Homo sapiens: one gene and its partners. The protein of the gene in region 4 purifies or fractionates together with the protein of the main gene of each other region. This does not show direct contact. Each region holds a gene or a part of one and is shown on either strand. Other genes may lie near its edges.

The links.
Region 1: the proteins of QNG1 (region 4) and PPIAL4G purify together in Homo sapiens (affinity purification with mass spectrometry; one large-scale study listed by BioGRID and IntAct). This does not show direct contact.
Region 2: the proteins of QNG1 (region 4) and DPYD fractionate together in Homo sapiens (co-fractionation; one large-scale study listed by BioGRID). This does not show direct contact.
Region 3: the proteins of QNG1 (region 4) and RFESD fractionate together in Homo sapiens (co-fractionation; one large-scale study listed by BioGRID). This does not show direct contact.

What each region holds. Positions count from the first base shown.
Region 1 is NC_000001.11:148,481,934-148,484,737, forward strand, and holds PPIAL4G (peptidyl-prolyl cis-trans isomerase A-like 4G), read right to left. Parts: upstream 1,370-2,804; 5' UTR 1,320-1,369; coding exon 825-1,319; 3' UTR 615-824; downstream 1-614. UniProt on the Homo sapiens protein: PPIases accelerate the folding of proteins. It catalyzes the cis-trans isomerization of proline imidic peptide bonds in oligopeptides.
Region 2 is NC_000001.11:97,914,382-97,918,130, forward strand, and holds part of DPYD (dihydropyrimidine dehydrogenase [NADP(+)]), read right to left. Parts: intron 1-3,749.
Region 3 is NC_000005.10:95,653,208-95,656,956, reverse strand, and holds part of RFESD (Rieske domain-containing protein), read right to left. Parts: coding exon 3,743-3,749; intron 2,897-3,742; coding exon 2,721-2,896; intron 2,625-2,720; coding exon 2,590-2,624; intron 1,627-2,589; exon of another isoform or gene 1,462-1,626; intron 1,009-1,461; exon of another isoform or gene 912-1,008; coding exon 648-911; 3' UTR 1-647.
Region 4 is NC_000009.12:83,946,503-83,950,251, forward strand, and holds part of QNG1 (queuosine 5'-phosphate N-glycosylase/hydrolase), read right to left. Parts: intron 1-3,749.

The DNA of each region.
Region 1 (2,804 bases), on a different chromosome or scaffold from region 4:
TTTAAAAATTAAGTTAATCACCCTCAATAAGCCCTGTTTTAAAAAGAGGGATAAATGGAGAGGAAAGAAGGAAAGTTGTTAAGATACATAAGTATGCACAGGACAATACAAGAGAAACAATGTGTTTGGATGTCAAGGCTCTCCTTTCTGCAAGTGGCCAGCAGGTCACTATTGGCATCTATGGCCATGTGCCCTCAGCTAACACCTCTGCTAGTCAGGGTTTTGCCTTGTGAGATGACCAAATATTCATTCCTGACAGAGAAATGTCCTTGATAATCTTTTTGTGTGAGCGTGCCATGGTCATTGTTAATTTCTTTCATTTAACAAAATAATAGACTTTATTTTTTGAGCAGTTTTAGCTTTATGGAAAGATCGAGCAGAAAGTACAGAGTTCTCACATACTGTCACCTTTATCCCACCCCCAGTTTACATTAGGGTTCACTCTTTGTGTGGTACAGGTCTAGGAGTTTTGCAAAACGCATAATGTCATGTACCCATCATTACATTATTACCAACGTATTTTCAATCCCCTAAAAATCGCCTGTTTCAGAACTATTTATCTCCCTACCCATCCCCAAACTCCTGGCAACCACTGAGCTTTTTTGTTGTTGTTGTTGTTACTTAGTTTTTATTTCATAATCATAAACTTAACTCTGCAATCCAGCTAGGCATGGAAGGGAACAAGGAAAACATGGAACCCAAAGGGAACTGCAGCAAGAGCACAAAGATTCTAGGATATTGCAAGCAAATGTGGTGGAGGGGTGCTCTCCTGAGCTACAGAAGGAATGGGTCTGGTGGTGAAAATAAAACACAAGTCAAACTCATTAGAATTGTCCACAGTCAGCAATGGTGATCTTCTTGCTGGTCTTGCTATTCCTGTACCCAAAGTGCTCCATGGCTTCCACAATATTCACACGTTCTTTCACCTTGCCAAAGGCCACATGCTTGCCATCCAACCACTCAGTCTTGGCAGTGCAGATGAAAAACTGGGAACCATTTGTGTTGGGTCCAGCATTTGCCATGGACAAGATGCCAGAACCTGTATGCTTTCGGATGAGGTTCTCATCATCAAATTTCTCCCCATAGATGGACTTGTCACCGGTGCCATTAGGGTGTGTGAAGTCACCACCCTGACACATAAACCCTGGAATAATTCTGTGAAAGCAGGAACCCTTATAACGAAATCCTTTCTCTCCAGTGCTCAGAGCACGAAAGTTTTCTGCTGTCTTTGGAATCTTGTCTGCAAACTGTTTGATGGAGATGCGGCCCAAGGGCTTGCCGTCGACGGTGATGTCAAAAAAGATGACGGAGTTGACCATGGCTGATAGTACAGGGCTCACAGCGATGGCGGCGTCTGCAAAGATAACCACTGATCTTTTTACTGTCTTTATAGTTTGGCCTTTTCTAGAATGTCGTATAGTTGAAATCACAGTATGTACCCTTTTCAGACTGGCTTCTTTCACTTAGCAAAATGTCTTTGTTTTTTCTGTATCTTTTTGTGGCTTGATAGTTTTTTCCTTTTAGCACTGAATAATATTCCACTGTAGGAATATACCACAGTTTGCTTATGCAGTCACTCATTGAAGGACATCTTGGTTGCTTCCAAGTTGTGGCAGTCTTCATTTCTTTCTTTCTTTCTTTCTTTCTTTCTTTCTTTCTTTCTTTCTTTCTTTCTTTCTTCTTTTTTTTTTTTTTTTTTTTTGAGACAGAGTCTTGCTCTGTCACCCAGGCTGGAGTGAAGTGGCACAATCTCAGCTCATTGCAACCTCTGCCTCCCAGGTTCAAGTGATTCTCTTCCTCAGCCTCTGGAGTAGCTGGGATTACAGGTGTGCACCACCACGCCTGGTTAGTCTTCAGGAATATTTACAGGACTGTATAGAATTAGGAGCCATCAAAGGGGATCCCTGAATTCTTTCTGTTTTTCTTACAAATACCAGTTTTAAGGTCAAGATTTACTACCCCATGCAACAGTGTAGCCGCATTTTAAATTTTAAATTTTTGACTGTTTCTTTAAAGGTCTCAGGCAACCTAAAAGGCTAGATAGAAGTCTCTCATCCTCTAACGAAGGATGGATTGTAAAATGGAATACTGCTAAGACTCTCCCTTTGGGTACTAATTCTGCAAAAACCTAGAATCTCAGAGACAAGAGATAAGTATTTGGAGTGGATCATTAGATGTAATGACAAAAGGAGTCACTTCAACATTCATAACAAATATCAAAGATTGTTGTATTTTTTATATGGGAGACACCAGACAAGCTTATACTTAGTTACTAGTTCAGAGGATACACCACCACATCCTCTAGCATGAGTACAACCTTATAAGCCATTGTCTCCAGCTGGCACTGTGATTGAGTCTTTAATAAAATATTCACCATTCTATAATAATAATAATTTTGGTTAGTGATAGGATAAATGGTGGACCAGGTGAGTCCAATGAATATCTACTCATTTGTTATACAACAAGTTCTTTTAATAGAAGGATGTAGAACAGGATATTATGGCAGTATATATAAGGCATTCAATGTACCCGTGGAGAGTGGCGATCAGAGAAAAATGATGTCAGGTAAAGCAAATGTAATTCAAGGATAAAGGTAGATTCCATTTACAAAATTCCTTGTTGCCTTTATCATAGAGGAGCTCCAATAAAATCAACAAGTCTGACAAAAGGTGACTGGTTTATTCACCCAGGATATGTTATTGTGTGCTTAGCCTTGGACTTTGTTGCTTGTGTGTTGGACACCTAATAGTCTTGACAGCTAAATAGGCTTTTGTAAGCGAGAGTGGTAAAGTCCAACATGTTGC
Region 2 (3,749 bases), on a different chromosome or scaffold from region 4:
CAGTTAGCACATGGAAATACAAGGGTTTGTTTTAATTATGTAGGAATTTCTTTTCAGAAAAAAATTAATGTCAAATGCCTTCTACATTTCTATGAGAATGCCAAAAAATAATTTTCACCTATGCATTAGCCCTGATCTAGTCTCAAAAACACTCAGAAAAACACAGAAGAATCAATCCATATGTATGTTGCAGTAAAAAAAGGATGGGGCTAGCCTGGATTTGAATCTTATTAACCTACGTAATAGATGTGAATAGTCATGTATAAACAAAACCTAGGCCATATACTTCCTTTGTACCATCTGAAACTTACACCAGTGGGCTCGCAGTACAACAGGTACTAAAAACATATTTTTAGACAGAAATGAAATGAAATGGGTCTCTTTAAATTGATCTGAATTTCAGAAACTCCCCAATCTCCCTCATAATATTGACAAATGTTAATTCAGTAACTTTTTCACAATAGATATATGCAACATTTATAAATCTATAATGCACCTCTTTCATAATCTTTTAACTTCATTAACTCCTCCCTTTCTCATAGATTCTAACAGACTTCAATACCACTAGTTGATTACTAGAGCAAAAACAAATTCTTGCCAATTGATGTTTATATAATGTACATGATAGACGCAGTAATAACATTTAAAATAAGTGTAACCAATTAAAAAAGCATATATTTATGTGACAAATGCTGTCTGAAGCATTTTGTGTATGTGACTCCAATTAATCCTTATAGCTATTGCATGAAATACATAGGATTAAATTCAATTCACAGAAGAAGAAATGGCAGTCCAAGAAAGAAGCTGACCACAGTCACACAAATAAAATAAAATAGTGCCAGGATTCTAACCCAGGTCTGTTTAAATACAATGTTTTCTTTTTGTACTAACCATGAAAGGAAGCTTGATTTGGGGAGATACAAAATAAATAACTTCATATAAAAGTACTTAATTCCTCAATACATATAAATATATATGTATTCATGGTGAACTGGCTAAAAGTTATATGTTGAGTTTGAATGCAGATGTTTCATATGTACTAGTGTAACATTTTAATTAAAAGCAATGGAAGCAGTAATAATTATAAACCACAGGAAAGACATAATCCTATTAAGAGTTATCTCAGTAGTATAATTGGCTCCAGGATATCAGTGAACACCCACATGACTGATATTTGAGGCCAAAAACACCTTCTGTCTTGATATGGAGGATTATGAGCAAATGAAGTCCAGAAGGTAAATATGTCACATTTTAAAATCAAAGTCCCAATTATAGATAAAGGTGTAATCTTACAATGCCTTATTAAATATTTTTAATTAAGGTGGAATATAAACAAAATAAAATTTTCTTTACAGTTTTAAGGACTGAAGGGCTCTGCAACATATTTGTCATGCATTCATACAGCTGAGAGGCAGAAAAATAAATTGGCCAATCCTCCATTTTGATCTCCTCTTTAGCTGTATTGAAGCCTGGATTATATCAAATCTCATCAGATTTTCTTTGTCATGATATTTTACGACAATCTTTTTTCAGTCTCATTGTCTTCTAGTTTTAGTGTTCCAAACTATTACTTACATTTACGCTAATTATTAGAATTCTCCCACAGTGATCAGACATCTTTATTTTACTAGGGGTTCCAGCTTTCAGCCCTTGTGTTGTTGCCAGTTTATACAGAGTTTGGTAAGATGCTGTATTCAAATAGTTAAAGAAAGGTATGATTGCTTAAAGATCTTCCATAACTGAATCAGTATTTTGACTCTAGATCTTCTTAGTGTCCTTATCAATTCCTTACTGTTAATATTCATCTTTTTTTATTATTATACTTTAAGTTTTAGGGTACATGTGTACAACGTGCAGGTTAGTTACATATATATACATGTGCCATGTTGGTGTGCTGCACCCAGTAACTCGTCATTTAACATTAGGTATATCTCCAAATGCTATCCCTCCTCCCGACCCCACAACAGGCCCCGGTGTGTGATGTTCCCCTTCCTGTGTTCATGTGTTCTTATTGCTCAATTCCCACCTATGAGTGAGAACATGCGGTGTTTGGTTTTTTGTCCTTGTGATAGTTTGCTGAGAATGATGGTTTCCAGCTTCATCCATGTCCCTACAAAGGATATGAACTCATAATCTTTTTAAAAGTGAATTTTTCTTCTAGAATGTAACAAAGGAGGCTACCAAATTCCAGCACACTTTACAATTAAGCAATCAGTCAACACCATTTGCTATCATTAAGATTAAGCAGATCCAATCTAAAAATCACCCTCCATCAAGATCCATCATTAGTCATTAATCTCCCAGATTTTAATTAAACTACCAAAACTATTCATCTGAATTCATATGCAAAGGATAGAATTTTTCTTTAAACTGCCCACAACTTTGGTGGGCCAAGCTGAAAGGTTCGCTTGAGCCCAAGAGTACAAGGCCAGCCCGGGCAATATACTGAGACCCCCATCTCTATTTTAAAAAACTGCACTGAAACACATATCAACACACTCAACTACAGAAATATGCAGTACCTTAAAACTACAGGAAGCTACCATTAGAATCAGTGACTCCTCAAATCAGATAATCAGACACATTTCTACTATCCAGCTAAACTCCTTAGAAAGGAGAAACACTTTAAAGTAAAACTATGGCCCACAAAACAGCTTAAAGTAGGAAGTACAAGCATGTTTTCAACAACTCTAACTCACAAAATAGTTTTAAAAAGTTAAAGCTTTAAAAGTCTTAATTTATTTAAGAATATATTTCCAAAAGATCTGCAGTGCCCAGTCAATAAAAGGAAGGAGAAAAGAAATGACTGATGCTTACACATTCAGTAAAAATATATCCATTTAAATCAATAAACAACTCATGGCTTTGTATAAAGTGGAATCTTTATTATCTTTTTTGGATCCATGATTCTCCTTCCTCCCCAGCAGCAAAGGCAATTATGATAAAAGATGTTCTGAAAATTTTTTTGCCATCTCTGCCAATTTATAACCCATGACTTTCCTTGTTTCAAAATTTGTAAAGTCCACTTTCTCCAAGTCTTTCCCATTATGCTTCTATTTTCCAAATTCGCTATTTTTAATCTCATTTTCCTAGTTAATCATACAGAAAATTCCCAATTACCTTTTCAAATGAATAGAAGTCACAGTATCAGTAATTCCGAAACCATTTCTGTTTGACTTAAAATGCATTTGATTTTGTGGACAATGGACTAAAATCCCTTTTTCATTTAGGGTAAATGTGAATTAAGTTTATAACCCTTTAACATTCACTAACTGATCATTCAAGGAATGGGCCTTGTGATTGTGACTGTGGTAGCAGTACAGTAACAGATAGCAACTTGGTTTGGCTACAAATATATATCAAAAGTACTAGTATTCAAATAGTTAAAAGCTTGCTGCAGCTGCATACATTTCGTTTAGATATATATACTTTCAAAGTCTATTCTCATTATCCTTGCCGGTGGAGGGGAACAAGGTCTTGAACAAAAGAGTACTGTTTCAAAATAATTCTCATTTCCTTTCAAGTGTGCAGATATTCACAATATACTGGCTGTAAATTCAATCTAAATGAAGAAGTGCTGTTAAGTTACTGCTGAGGCCTGGGAAAGTGACCAATGTCCAATACTAACCTTCTTTGAAACCATCCCAGGAGAGTTTGTATTAAAGTCATCGTTGACAAAATTCAGACTGTATCCAAACAGTACACTCACAAAGCAAAATAACTTCTAAAAGCATATAACTACTATTAAC
Region 3 (3,749 bases), on a different chromosome or scaffold from region 4:
TAAACCTATCTCATTTTTGGAGGCATTTTTTAAGTATAAAAAGTCTGTTATTTAGGAAGGTTGCACAGTTCAGAGGTGAACATTTCAATGTATTTAAACTTTCCTAAAAATGTAAAAATAACAATCAAATAGGAGAGGTAGCAAATCCACAGAGGTATAAATAAAACAAGAATGGAAGAATGCTGATAACTGTTAAAGCTGAGTGATGGAAGTTCATTATATAGTCTGTTTACTTTGTATATACTAAAACTTTTCCAGAATTAAGTCTGCTACATCAAACAGGGATTTTTTCCTATTTTAAAAATTAAATTTTTTAAATTAAAAAATTTTTTCTTACTAATCCTTAATTTTTACCTATTATTTGTTTACTCCAAATTTATTTTTATCCTTCTTAAACAGAACATCCCAAACCTATAACCTTCAGGTTTCTAATTAATCCAGAAGATTCGATAAAATGTATTCTATTGATCCTGATGATAATCCTTACATCATACTAAGTATGTGTGCTCTTAAACCTCTCAAATGTATGTGAATTTTAAACAGTTGTGCCTATGTTGAAAAATTTCATCACCTTTAAAACTGAAGCAGAGTTATTCTAAAAATGTTTTCAAGCATACACAACATTTTTCATTTCTATATATTTTTTATCAGGAAGAACTCTTAATTACTTTGAAGTCTCCAGTGGCATAAAAATCAGAGTCACACTTAAAAGGTTCATTAGAAAGAGTCACATAAATATTTCCGTTGTCTACTGTCACTGTGTGAATCCTTTGCTTTATTCCTTTGGAGCACCACTTGGGTTTTGCTGATGGATCTTTAGGGTTTATAGACTGGTACAGACCTTCTCCTGTTGCCAAAGTAATTTTGTATTTATGCCAGGGGCAAACTATACACGGTCGTCCATCAAAATCCTGGGGAAGAGAATAACTCATTTAATATTCTGACATGTCAAATGTTCTTGATAGACTCTGAAGAGTCTGCTGCAGAAGAACCAGGTTAAAAAAACAGGTTAGCTTTTCTTTTTTTCCTCCTATGTACAAATTATTCAGCATAAAGCAGATCCTAATCTGAGAAGAGTCATCAAGCTCTTTTACAGTTGATTAGAAAGCCAGTTAGAGCTCTATCAGAAGACTGACATGCTCAGGCAACTAAACCATGTGACTGCAGCTGTGCTGTTATCTATTAGATGTTAATGTCGCCTCCTTGACAGAAATGGGGCAAGGACTTCAAGTGCTTCTATAGGAATTTTCACTAGCTTCTAGAAGAACTGTAAGGTTCAGATATAAATTCAAAAGGAGTTACTAAAGGCATGAGTGCATATGATAATAGAAGAGCAATTTGTGATCCAAAGTAGTTAATTCTCAACTTTTTAACTGTCTTGGTGAAGTGCTTCTCAAACTTTAAAAAACATAGGAAGCACCTGGATCTTGTTTCAATGCATGTCTCTCTGTTTAAATGTAGTAGGTCTAAGGGGTTGGGGTGACAAGATTCTGCATGTCTAAGAAGCTCCCATGTGACACCAAAGTTGCTGGTCTATGGACAACAGTTTGAGGAGCAAGGTCTTCAAGCTCTCATTATGGACTGAAACTGGAGAAAATTCTATGGAACTATTATCAGCTCACACATGTAAGTGGGTGCTTTCATTTTCCCCTCTATATCCAAAAGTGCAGGAATACTGATTTGTACTTTCATAAAACTGTCAGCAAAGATTCACATTTTCATAATTTACATTACATAAAACTGTCAGCAAAGATTCACATATGTGGGTTTGGACAATGGGAAAAAATAGAAAAAATAAACACACATACGTTCTTTAACATGAGGACAGGTGTGTACACTCATCAAGTGTAGAGAGAGTGGAATGCTAAGTTCAAGCTTGTACTTTGCATCGGTTAGAGAGAGAGAGACCAATTTCATGAAGAAACAAGAAATTAGGTGACTAGTTTTGGAATCCAAGGAAGCAAAGACAACTTCCCCCGTTCCTCCTCAGTTAAGACTACAGTGTGGTTTATTTCTTTAAAAATATATTTATACTGTATATTTTTGTTATATTATAAAAATAATATATACTCATTTTAAAAATTCAAATTATGCACAGTGTATACAGTAAAAAGTGAATATTCTTTTTGATGAAAAAAGAGATCTCATAAGACTATTATCATCCTATGACGTGCTTTTTTCAGTCACAAATACATTGTTCACATCTCTCCATACCCATATAGATCTGCCTTATTAATTTAATGATTGCATGGTACAGTTATTCCACAGCATGGCTGTATCATAATTTATTTAACCAGTTTCCGATTGTTAAAACATTTAGGTTGCCTTCAATTATTCATTATAATAAATAATGCTACAATGAATCATTCCTATACAAATACTTAAACATCCGTGCAATTATGGCCATAGAATAGATATAGAGTATAATTGCTAGGTCAAAAGATAAGCATATTTCTCATTTATCTTATGAATTCCCAGAATACTTGGAATTATATTCAAAGCATTAAAATATAGTTCAAACCAATTATAAATTATTTTTGAATATATTTATTTGCTGAATTTGCTGAAAATAAATTTAATTTTACATACCTCTATATCTCCCAAATGTAAAGGTCCTCCTGAGTCTGAAAAGGAATTGAATATTACCTGCAGTCACTAAAAAACTGAAATTTTGATAGTTTCATGGTTTAAAGTTTTACAAATGAAAAATAAAATCTTACGGTAACAGCGAATATCCATAGCATGATATTCTCCCTTGTGGTAGAAAATGACCACTTCTCTATCATGGACAACAGCTGTCATTCTTTCAGATTTTTTAATGTCATCTTCTCTGCCCACACACACAGAAGAATATTCCCTCTTTTCAGGATCTTGTGCAGAGCCATCAAGATTCATGCTAGTTGAACATAAAGAAGGAAAGTTACAAGAAGTATTCACTAATTTGGTTCCAGCTTAATGGAGATAACCCTAAGAATGAATAGTTCGGACTTTTCAAGATTAATGGAGGCACTTTCTGTAGCTATATAAAACATTTATAAATACTAGATTATTATTATTTTGAGACAGAGTCTCACTCTGTCACCCAGGCTGGAGTGCAGTAGCACGATCTCAGCTCACTGCAACCTCCGCCTCCCAGGTTCAAGGGATTCTCCTGCCTTGGCCTCCCGAGTAGCTGCGATTACAGGAGCCCACCACCACACCTGGCTAATTTTTGTATTTTTAGTAGAGACAGGTTTCTCTGTGTTGGCCAGGCTGGTCTCAAACTCCTGACCTCAAGTAATCCACCCACCTCAGTCTCCCAAAGTGCTGGGATTACAGGCGTGAGCCACTGCGCCCGGCCATAAATACTGGATTATATTAAGTAGGTAGTCATTACTTTGCGTTAGAGACTCTTAAAGACTGCCAAAATTAGGGAGGATTCCTCAATCTGAGGCTAGAGTTGTATTAGATTCATTTCAAGGTCAAGAAGGAAATTTCAGAACTTGTAAAACATAGAGATTTAAGTTTCACTATCCCTTTATTTCCTATCAAATTCAACACTAAACAACATTCAGTTATCTGCATTGTTTTCAGCCTTCTGCTGAAAGCAGGATTCTTTGATTGTCTGAATAGTCTTCAGCCTCTTGGCTAAGGTGGTCCACTTGGTTTTGCCTGGAGTACACAGTTGGCTCTTACAGGCACAACCAGATAGCTATTACAGCAAGAGAAGGTGGGTATGAATGAAAACCTTTCATTTTCTTACCTCAGAT
Region 4 (3,749 bases):
ATGTAAGTCCAAATATGAAAATAAAATAGCCAATTATATTTATACATAGAAAAGACAAATTTAACCAAGCATTAGTGGGTTATAATTTAACTAAAAAATTCTAGCTAAGTGTGGTGGCTTACACTTGTAATCCCATCAATTTGGGAGGCCAAAGCCAGAGGATTGTTTGAAGCCAGAAGTTCAAGACCAGCCTGGAAAACGATGAAACTCCATCTCTACAAAACACGGCGAAACCCTGTCTCTACAACCACCACACCTGGCTAATTTTCATATTTCAGTAGAGATGGGGTTTCACCATGTTGGCCAGACTGGTCTCAAACTCCTGACCTCAGGCGATCCGTGTGCCTTGGCCTCTCAAAGTGCTGGGATTACAGGCATGAGCCACCATGCCTGGCCTACAAATTTTTTTTTTTTTTTAATTAGCCAGGCGTGGTGGCACGTGCCTGTAGTCTCAGCTACTCACCAGGCTGAGGCAGGGGGTTTGCTTGAGCCTGTGAGGTAGAGGCTGCAGTGAGCTGTGATCACATCACTAAACTCCATCCTGGGCAACTGAGACTCTATCTCAAAAAACAACACCCCAAAAACACTCTGTAAATCTACAAATGCAAATCAGCCTAGATTATGGAAAAACATAGATAATTACAATCAACTACTAGTCCTAATACCAATAGTAATAACCTTAAATAATGTTTTATAAATGTTTATCAATATTACTAGCTCCCAAAATATATCCTGACCACCTTGGAGGAGAATATTTTAACTTGTAAATGACATAAACAAATAAATACGAGATTAAAAGTTTAAGGAAAGGCTCTATATAAAAATTCCTTAAGATGACACTACAGATTCTTTTATTTACTAAGAAAATGCCAATGATACCCTGTCATAACAAGAAATAACCTAATATTGCTTAACCTTAAGATATGCCTATTGTAACAGATCCAGACCTATTTTTATTATACTAAATAAATTAAAACTTCTAAAGCTACATTTAAGAAAGTCAGAATTTGCCTCTCCCTCTCCCTCGTCTCCCACTTTCCAGGGTCTCCCTCTGATGCCGAGGGGAGGCTGGACCGTACTGCCGCCATCTCGGCTCACTGCAACCTCCCTGCCTGATTCTCCTGCCTCAGACTGCCAAGTGCCTGGGATTGCAGGCGCTCGCCGCCACGCCTGACTGGTTTTTGTATTTTTTGGTGGAGATGGGGTTTCGCCGTGTTGGCCGGGCTGGTCTCCAGCTCCTGACCGCGAGTGATCTGCCCGCCTGGGCCTCCCGAGGTGCCGGGATTGCAGACAGAGGCTCGCTCACTCAGTGCTCAATGTTGCCCAGGCTAGAGTGCAGTAGCGTGATCTCGACTCACTACAACCTCCACCTCCCAGCCGCCTGCCTTGGCCTCTCAAAGTGCTGAGATTGCAGCCTCTGCCCGGCCGCCACCCCGTATGGGAAGTGAGGAGCGTCTCTGCCTGGCCGCCCATCGTCTGGGATGTGAGGAGCCCCTCTGCCCGGCCGCCCAGTCTGGGAAGTGAGGAGCGCCTCTTCCCGGCTGCCATCCCATCTAAGAAGTGAGGAGCGTCTCTGCCCGGCTGCCCATCGTCTGAGATGTGGGGAGCGCCTCTGCCCCGCCGCCCCGTCTGGGATGTGAGGAGCGCCTCTGTCCGGCCGCGACCCCGTCTGGGAACTGAGGAGTGTCTCTGCCCGACCGCCACCCCGTCTGGGAGGTGAGGAGCGTTTCTGGCCGGCCGCCCCGTCTGAGAAGTGAGGAGCCCCTCCGCCCAGCAGCCGCCCCGCCTGGGAAGTGAGGAGCCCCTCCGCCCGGCAGCCGCCCCGTCTGGGAAGTGAGGAGGGTCTCCGCCCGGCAGCCGCCCCGTCCAGGAGGGAGGTGGGGGTCAGCCCCCAGCCCGGCAGCCGCCCCGTCCGGGAGGGAGGTGGGGGGCAGCCCCCCCGCCCGGCCAGCCGCCCCGTCGGGGAGGGAGGTGGGGGGCGCCTCCGCCCGGCCACCGCCCTGTCCGGGAGGGGGGGGGCGCCTCTGCCTGGCCGCCCCGTCTGGGAAGTGAGGAGCCCTTCTGCCCGGCCGCCACCACGTCTGGGAGGCATGCCCAACAGCTCATTGAGAGCGGGCCATGATGACGATGGCGGTTTTGTCGAATAGAAAGGGGGGAAATGTGGGGAAAGGAAAGAGGGATCGGATTGTTACTGTGTCCGTGTAGAAAGAAGTAGACATAGGAGACTCCATTTTGTTATGTACTAAGAAAAATTCTTCTGCCTTGGGATGCTGTTAATCTATAAACTTACCCCCAACCCCGTGCTCTCTGAAACATGTGCTGGGTCCACTCAGGGTTAAATGGATAAAGGGCGGTGCAAGATGTGCTTTGTTAAACAGATGCTTGAAGGCAGCATGCTCCTTAAGAGTCATCACCACTCCCTAATCTCAAGTACCCAGGGACACAAACACTGCGGAAGGCCGCAGGGTCCTCTGCCTAGGAAAACCAGAGACCCTTGTTCACATGTTTATCTGCTGACCTTCCCTCCACTATTGTCGATGACCCTGCCAAATCCCCCTCTCCAAGACACACCCAAGAATGATCAATAAATACTAAAAAAAAAAAAAAAAGTCAGAATTTGTTTTCCAGAGCAAGTATACATTCTCATTTTCTGAGAAAATGGTGTAATGTCTCTAAATTAAATTAAGGGGCTGAAGGAACAAATCACAATTTAAAACATTCCTACATTATGCTATCACCCTATATTCCTAAACCTATCTAAATATGACAACTTGGCAATTGTTCCTCTATATAAACTGGATTTATATATGGCAACCAGGTTTCTAGTTCAAGTCTAGTTTATAAAACAACACAAGACATGGCTGGGTGCAGTGGCTCATGCCTGTAATCCCAGCACTTTGGGAGGCCGAGGCGGGTGGATCACCTGAGGTTGGGAGTTTGAAACCAGCCTGACCAACATAGAGAAACCCCGTCTCTACTAAAAAAAATACAAAATTAGCCGGGCATGGTGGCACATGCCTGTAATCCCAGCTACTCGGGAGGCTGAGGCAGGAGAATCACTTGAACCCGGGAGGCCGAAGTTGTGATGAGCCGAGTTCACGCCATTGCACTCCAGCCTCGGCAACAAGAATGAAACTCTGTCTCAAGGGAAAAACAAAAACAAACAAAAAAAAAACCCAGCAAGACATAAGACTTAACTTATAAAAATGTCTATTAAACACAATTACTACACCATCAAGTTTATTATAATAGATAGAAGCCATTATCTGCTATTTTTAACAAGATTCATAGAGCAAAATGGAAAAAACTAGAAATCAAACTTACATAGCAACCCACATGGAAAAAAACAAAAAATAAAAATAAAATCAGTGCTAGCATCTAAGAAAACATGTAAATTATCATGTCACTGCTGTTTCCATGGTAGCAGACTAGTATATATAAAGAATAGATTATAATAGATATAATAATATATTAATATAAAAAAGAACAAAAAGATTTAAGGGAGGAATCAAAAATAAATTCAAGTAATCTGTAAAACATTTTCCTATTTTTTTTTTTTTTTTTGGAGACGGAGTCTTGCTCTGTTGCCCAGGCTGGAGTGCAATGGTGCAATCTCGGCTCACTGCAACCTCTGCCTCCCGGGTTCAGGCCATTCTCCTGCCTTAGCCTCCCGAGTAGCTGGGATTACAGATGGGCGCCAACACGCCTGGCTAATTTTTGTATTTTTAGTAGAGACGGGGTTTCACCAC